2 linked regions of the Homo sapiens genome follow. The protein of the gene in region 1 purifies or fractionates together with the protein of each later gene. This does not show direct contact. Each region holds a gene or a part of one and is shown in the gene's direction. Other genes may lie near its edges. The genes, in order: LYRM7 and MCEE.

Region 1 (4,308 bases):
AGAGTGAAACTCCGTCTCAAAAATAAATAAATAAATAAAGTTCCTGTGAAGTATATAAACATGTCAACAACAGGCTTGACTGTCACAAAATTCTGAAAGATGTCGCACTCTATTCTTATATAGCATATGCTAATTTATTTATTTATTTTTTGAGATTGAGTTCTGCTGTGTCACCCAGGTTGGAGTGCAGTGGCATGGTCATGGTCCACTAAAGCCTTGACCCCTGGGGCTCAGCAGTTATGCCAACTAAGCCTCCCAAATAGCTGAGACTAGAGGTATGCGCCACCACACCTAGCTATTTTTTTTATTTTTAGTAAGGACAAGGTCTCATTATGTTGGCCAGGCTGGTCTCAAATTCCTGAGCTCAGTTGATCCTCCCACCTCAGCCTCCCAAAGTGCTGGGATTACAGGTGTAAGCCACTGCACCCTGCCTATTCTTATAATCATATATTTATATTTCAAATGGATTTTAACTGGTTATTTAATAGTTTAATTAGATAAAGTAATTCATGGCTGGGTGTGGTGGCTCACGCCTGTAATCCCAGCACTTTGGCAGGCTGAGGCAGGTGGATTACCTGAGGTCGGAAGTTCGAGACCAGCCCAACCAACGTGGAGAAACCCCATCTCTATTAAAAATGCAAAATTAGCAGGACATGGTGATACACACCTGTAATCCCAGCTAGTCAGGAGGCTGAGGCAGGAGAATTACTTGAGCCAGGGAAGCAGAGGTTGTGGTGAGCTAAGATTGTGCCACTGCACTCCAGCCTGAGAGAACAAGACTCCGTCTCAAAAAAAGAAAAAAAGAAAACTTTTTTACACATGGGTATCTCACCATGTTGCCCAGGCTGGAGTGCAGTAGCTATTCATAGGCACAGTCATAGCACACTGCAGCCTAGAATTTCTGACCTCAAGCAATCATCCTGCCTCAGCCTCCTAAGTAGCTAGGACTACAGGTGCATACCACCATAACCAGCTTTAATTAAATGTTTTTTATTTGGTTATTTTTTTTAAGTTTTCTGTATTCACACAAGGGGTTGCCCAAATATAATTTTGCTTTGACTATTGAGATCTAGTGAAAGTGGGGTATATGAATTCTAATTGCAAATATCCAGGCTCAGAGGCCCAGCAGGACTTTCTAACACAATCTTTTAGCGGAAGTTAGAAATGGTATATAGCAGGAGAGTCAGATTTGAGAAGCATATGTAGATTCGAAGCTGGGGGAATATGGCAGGTAGTTTGTACAACATCTAATTCAGAACATTAAAATTAAGATTTTAGTCAAACTGTGTTTAAGTTAGTTCTTATTTTCCTGTAGATGCATCTCACAGCATCAGTACAATACCAAAAAAGCACACAAGAATAAGAATATGTGGAATTTCTATACCTATTGACAAAGCACATAATTTAACCATAAACACAAAGCCATAGGTCAACAAAGAAATGAAGATTCCAGTTCTGAAGGTGAGTTTTCTGAAGCCAAAGTGGATACATGCAAAATTAATATAGTTTTACTGTATATCAGTTGTCACCAATCAGAAATGGAAAACAGATCCTATTTATAATTGCAAACAAAACTGTAAAATAGACTTTTTAAAGTCTGGGAATAGACTTCTAAAATAAGCTATAACACTTAAAAAGGAGAGATATACTATGTTCCTAGATAGGACAATTGAAAATTCTGGAGATGACAGTTTTTCAAAAATCTATTGAGGCCAGGTGCAGTGGCCCATGCCTGTAGTTCCAGTACTTTGGGAGGCCTAGGTGGGTGGATCACCTGAGGTTGGGAGTTTGAGACCAGCCTGACCAACATGGAGAAACCCCGTCTCTACTAAAAATACAAAATTAGCCAGGCGTGGTGGTGCATGCCTGTAATCCCAGCTACTCGGGAGGCTGAGGCGTGAGAATCGCTTGAACCCGGTAGGCAGATGTTGCAGTGAGCCGAGATCGCACCATTGCACTCCAGCCTAGGCAACAAGAGCGAAACTCCATCTCAAAAATAGAAAAAACATTTATCGAAATCCCAACAAGTTGACAAATATATCCACATAAAAATATAAAACTTCTGTATTCTGTGAAAGCTACTATAAATAAAGTTTAGAGAAAGTTATTTGCCACCTATGTCATGATTGAAATAGTTAATTGATCCTGTGAATCAGTTAGCAAAACATAACTCAATGGAAAGATAGGCAAATGATACAAATAAGAAATTCACAAAAGAAGAAATACTAAGTCTCTAGTGATGAGAGAAATGTAAATTAAAATGAAACATGTTTGTTCATCAAGTTGTCACAAGTTAGACAATCATATCCAATATTTTTAAAGGTTGTAAGACTATAAGGAAATAGCCACTGTCATATCATTTTTAAAGGAATATAAATTATAGGGCCTTTTGTTTCTTTGGGTTTTTTTTTTTTAGAGACAAGATCTCTCCGTGTTGTCTAGGCTGGACTCAAACTTCTGGACTCAAGCAATCCTCGCAACATCATTAATAGCTGAGAGTAGAGACTTGAGCCACCACACCTGACTATAGGGCCTTTTTGAAAGGAAAATTGACATCATCAAAATTTTAAATATATTCAGTCTATTTCTCAAAAACTCAAAGAATACTAATAAATGTGTACTCAGGTATATGTACAGAAATTGCTGTAACATTATAATTTTAAACAATTTAAAACAGACTGAGTTTCCAAAGTTAGGGTACAATGAAAGAAAAGGTGGCTTATTTATACTCTGGAATATTTTCCAAGAGTTGAAAAGGATGAGGATACACACACACACACACACACACACACACACACACACACACACACACAGTTTGGGTATCCCTAATCCAGAAATTCAAATGCTCCAAAGTCCAAAACTTTCTGACCCACCAACATGACTGATGCTCAAAGGAAATGGCCACTGGAAGATTTCAGATTTTCAGATTTGGAGTGCTCAACCAGTAAGTATATAATGCAAATAATCCAAAATACAAAAAAAAAAAAAAAGAAATCTGAAACACTTCTGATCCCAAGCATTTCAGAAAACGGATGTTCATTTGTGTGTGTGTGTGTGTGTAAGCAGGTGTTGCTAGAAATTCACTTATATACAAGAAAACTTTTTGTGTACATATTTGCATATATATGTACAAATGGGTAGAAACGATACATGATTAATCTTAATCGGGAAGGAAAAGAGATTTAGGGAAGGAAGCAGTAAGTGAGAACTTTTATTCTATTTACTCCTGCACGTTTAAATATTGTTTACAGTGAGTATATCAACATGTAAGTGTTAAAAGACAATAAGCTACTAGTGATTTTTAATATAAAATTAACTATAAAATATTTTAAATATTAGCAAATAATATAGCACACTCATGAACCTAATTCCCACATTTGATAGTTGTTACATTTTGCCATGTTTGTTTAAAGGTCTAAGTCATAAAATCTTATAAAGCTAAACCCCACCCTTCTCTTTCTCCTCTCTCTCCAGGATAATTACTGTTTTATAGTTTGTGGATATCATTCCCTTACTTGTGTTTATACTTTTACCAAGTGTGTATGTATTCAAAAAACAGTTGTTTTGTGATTTTAAAATGTAAATGAATGGCGTTATGCTCCATGTATTCTGCAACTTTTCATCATACATTAGGTTTTGGCGATTTAGCCATAATTTGGCATGAATTCAGGTCTTTTAAGTTTTATTCCATTGTAAGAATAAACAAGTTTGTTCATTCATGTCTCCATTGATGAGTGATAGTATTGTCTCCAGTTTTTTTATGTTGCAAACCAATTTGCAAAAAACTCTGGCACATAGATTTTTACACCCAAGAAAAAGTTTACCTGGACATACACCAAGGAGCAGAACTGTTGAGTCCTAGCGTATGTGCATATTCAGCTTTTCCAGAAATTTCTAAATTGCTCTTTAAAATAGTTGTACCAGTTTACATTCCAATCGACAGTGTGTGAAAGGTCCCATTTCCCCACATCCTCACTGTTATGTATGATTTTTCTCATTGTCAAACTAATGGATATAAAATGGTATATTGTTTTAATTTGCATTTCTTAATTACTGGGGAGGCAGATCATCTTGTCATATGTTTATTGGCCATTATGGTTTCCCATTATGAATGTGTGTCTCTATCTTTTGTCCTCTTTTCTCTGTTGGGTTGTCTGGCTTTTTCTAACCAATCCTTTATATATTCTGGATACTAGTCCTTTGTTAATTATCTTTTTCCAATATGTGGCTTGTCTTTTAGTTTATGATAAACTTGACTGGGCTAAGGGATGCCCATATAGCTGGTAAATATTATTTCTGTGGTGTCTG
Region 2 (3,823 bases), on another chromosome or scaffold:
TGGATTCAGTGACCACTGTAAGTGCCACCAAAGTTAGCCACAATGTAGAGTCTGCTTTAGAATTGATCATGTTTGACCTCCCATGTAACAGGAATACAGCTGTTTTCACTGTCATAAGGCAATTAGGAGAAACAAATGAAAAGACTTTAAAGCTTTCAGTGTACATGCTAAGTATTCTTTATAACTCTTTTCTCTCTTTAAAATGCTAATAACTTCTTCGTTATTACAAAGTCAATACATTTTCAATTACTGTAATTTTTAAGATCTTCTGAATTGCACCTGCCAACAATTTTTAAAGGAATGTGAAGAAATGTTAGACAAGAAAAGTCCATTAGAGAACATTTCTATAGATGTTCATGTTCAGATAACTGCCTTTTAGAATATCAGCAATGACAATTATGCATCGATTTAATTTGCTAGGACAATTCTTTTTATAGAAAGAATGACATAATTGTTAAGCCAAATTTCTTTTTCTTTTCTTTTTTTTTTTTTTTTTGAGACGGAGTCTTACTCTGTCGCCCAGGCTGAAGTGCAGTGTGGCGTGATCTCGGCTCACTGCAACCTCTGCCTCCTGGGTTCAAGTGATTCTCCTGCCTCAGCCTACCAGGTAGCTGGGATTACAGGCATGCGCCACCATGCCCGGCTAATTGTGTATTTTTAGTAGAGATGAGGTTTCACCATGTTGGTCAGGCTGGTCTCAAACTCCTGACCTCAGGTGATTCACCTACGTCAGCCTCTCAAAGTGCTGGGATTATAGGCGTGAGCCACCTTGCCTGGCCTGTTAGGCCAAATTTCTAATACAGAGGAGAGGTCATTTGATTCTAGAGTGAATTCAAGGATGTATTCAGTTCATTATTGCAAACATGTATGAGACCCTATAATGTGTATTCTGCCAAGTACTTGGGATTTAGCAGTGAATAAGACATGAGTCATGTCCATAGTGAGGAGGGTCAGAAATTTAAACACCCAAGTGCAATATACTATGATAAGTAGAATTGATATATGTGACTTTGCAGTAGCACAGATGAAGGAGATTGATTGCTCCTGGCAGATTGAGTTGCTGGGAAGGCCTCACAGAGCATAAGTTACAATGAATGTGAAGGAATTCCCTAGGTGAACAAAAGGAGAAAGTTATTTCAGGCAGAGGGAATTGCATGTGGAAAGGCATAGAGTTATCATAACAGCTAACACTTAGTGGCTGGGTGTGGTGGCTTATGCCTCGACATGGCTTGGCTGTGTCCCCACCCAAATCTCATCTTGAATTCCCACATGTTGTGGGAGGGACCAGTGGGAGGTAATTGAATCATGGGGGCAGGTCTTTCCGTGCTGTTCTTGTGATAGTGAATAAGTTTCACAAGATCTGACAGTTTTATAAGGGGGATTTTCCCTGCCCAATCTGTCTCTCTTTGCCTGCTGCCATCCATGTAAGATGTGACTTGCTCCTCCTTGCCTTCTGCCATGAGTGTGAGGCCTCCCCAGCCACGTGGAACTGTAAATCATTAAACCTGTTTCTTTTGTAAATTGCCCAGTCTCGGGTATGTCTTTATCAATAGCGTGAAAATGGACTAATACACACCTGTAATCTTAGCACTTTGGGAGGCCAAGGTGGGCAGATTGCTCGAGCCCAGGAGTTTGAGACCAGCCTGGGCCAAATGGCAAAACCGTGTCTCTACTAAAAATACAAAAAGCTAGTCAGGTGTGGTGGTATGCACCTGTAGTCCCAGCTACTTGGGAGGCTGATGTGGGAGCATCACTTGAGCCCAGGAAGTGCTGAGGTGGAGGTTGTAGTGAGCCGTGATCACACCACTGCACTCTAGCCTGAATGAAAGAGCGAGACCCTGTCTCAAAAAAAAGAACTAACATTTAGTGAGTCCTCTAGTAGTATGTCTACAAAGTAACTCAACACATACTATTTTCTTGAATTTTCATAGCTACCCTGTGAGGGCCCTATTATCCCCATTTGACAGGAAAGGAAACTGAGACAGAGTAGTTAATTTGCCCATGGTCATATCAATAGCAGGTATGGGGCTGAATCCCAGATTGGTTCTGATTCCAGGGTCTGCACTCTTACCCATGATGCCAGTTGCCTTCATTATATTAACTGAGTTTTAAATTTGCGGTGGGGAAGCTATAAGACCTTAAGCAGGGAACTAAACAAGTCCTAATATTAGCCTTTATTTTATTTTTAGGGAGTTACTTTTGGCTGCAGGTCTTTGTCAGTGGACCTGAGTGTTTGTCTAAGCCCTACCCCACCCCCCAGGATGAGAAGCAGGACCTTTGAATCCACTCCCCCCTCTCCCACACTGCACTATCAGTATTCCATCAAGAGAGCCCATGCTTTCAAAGGAGTTCAGCTATGTGATTTAGTTCAGTTAAGTAAGGAATAGTGGAAGTTCAGTAATGGCAGATTCAAAAGCAGAGATTATAAGGGGGACATGCAAATGTATTGGATATAAAATGAAGGTAGGTAAGAGGAGAAGGTGTGAACAGTGGTTAGTTAGGTGCTATTTTAGTATAATACCCCCATCATCATTCTCTGCCCTCCACAAAAAAATTAAGTGGCTTAACAAGATTTTATTTTTCTGTTTTCAGTCTAATATTAGCTATCCCAGGCTGATGGGCAGCTCTGCTGTCCATGACACATGACTTACAAGGTTGCTCCAGGCATCACCATTTGCCAGCCAGAGGGAAGGGAAGGGAAGGTGGAGTGGGAATACCTGGCAAGTGGCTTTAAGGAGATGCTCTAGGATCACTTCTGTCCTTATCCCATTGGCCCAAGCTTAGTTACATGACACACTTCTCTGCAAGGGAGGCTGGGGAATGTAGTCTCTAGCTAGGCAGTTATGTGCCCTGCTGAAGCTTGGGGGTTGCTGTAATTAAAAGGAGGAAAAGGAGAAAGGTACTGGAGGCCATCAATGGATGCCACGCTTGGTGATTTTTAAAAAGTGGTGTGTCACCTGGGCATGGTGGCTCATGCTTATTACAGCACTTTGGGAGGCCGAGGTGGGCAGATTGCCTGAGCTCAGGAGTTTGAGACCAGCCTGGGCAACACGGTGAAACCCCATCTCTACTAAAATACAAAAATTAGCTGGACGTGGCGGCGCACACCTGTAATTCCAGCTACTTGGGAGGCTGAGGCAGGAGAATCGTTTGAACCTGGGAGGCAGAGGTTGCAGTGAGCCAAGATCATGCCACTTCACTCCAGCCTGGGCAACAGAGCAAGACTCCATCTCAGGAAAAAAAAAAAAAATGTTGAACCACTCATCAGAGAATTGGCTTTCCCCTCTGTAATCACAGGGCTACTTTCTGTCCTTTTTCACCAGGATCTTATAAAACCTCTGACTTAGCATATATCTGTTGGTGCATGCTCCATGGTTTTTGTTGACTCACTTGACGAAATGTTCCTTTCTCACATGTGGATTACGATCTCAATAGTTAATTAGCATTTTTCTGTCGAGGTTGAGTTGGTTTCTACTTTTTCTTGTGAGGTTTACTCATATTTCTTGTGTGTCTTTGCCTCTCACTAGAGGAATTTTAGAGGGCATCTTGTCCCATCTCTTCTCTTGCTCAAGTATGGACTGAATCACCCACTGTTTTCTGGCACAGCTTGTGTTTGTGCTCCTAACTGCTGCCTGCGATGGCAAGAGGGGGGTCACCTTCCCTGCCTTCTGCGTGCCTCTGCTTGAGGAGACAAAGCTGGCCGTGCTTTCTCTGGAGAACTTAGCCAGACAGCACAGTGTGTCACAGTGAAGACTTTAAGGGCCACCAGAAATACTTACTCAAATTTGTATTGAGTTTGTAAAAATATTTAAATGCTTCCGTG

The links.
Region 2: the proteins of LYRM7 (region 1) and MCEE purify together in Homo sapiens (co-immunoprecipitation; one large-scale study listed by IntAct). This does not show direct contact.

Annotation. Positions count from the first base shown.
Region 1 is NC_000005.10:131,201,702-131,206,009, forward strand, and holds the end of LYRM7 (complex III assembly factor LYRM7), read left to right. Parts: 3' UTR 1-3,727; downstream 3,728-4,308.
Region 2 is NC_000002.12:71,120,166-71,123,988, reverse strand, and holds part of MCEE (methylmalonyl-CoA epimerase, mitochondrial precursor), read left to right. Parts: intron 1-3,823. UniProt on the Homo sapiens protein: Methylmalonyl-CoA epimerase involved in propionyl-CoA metabolism.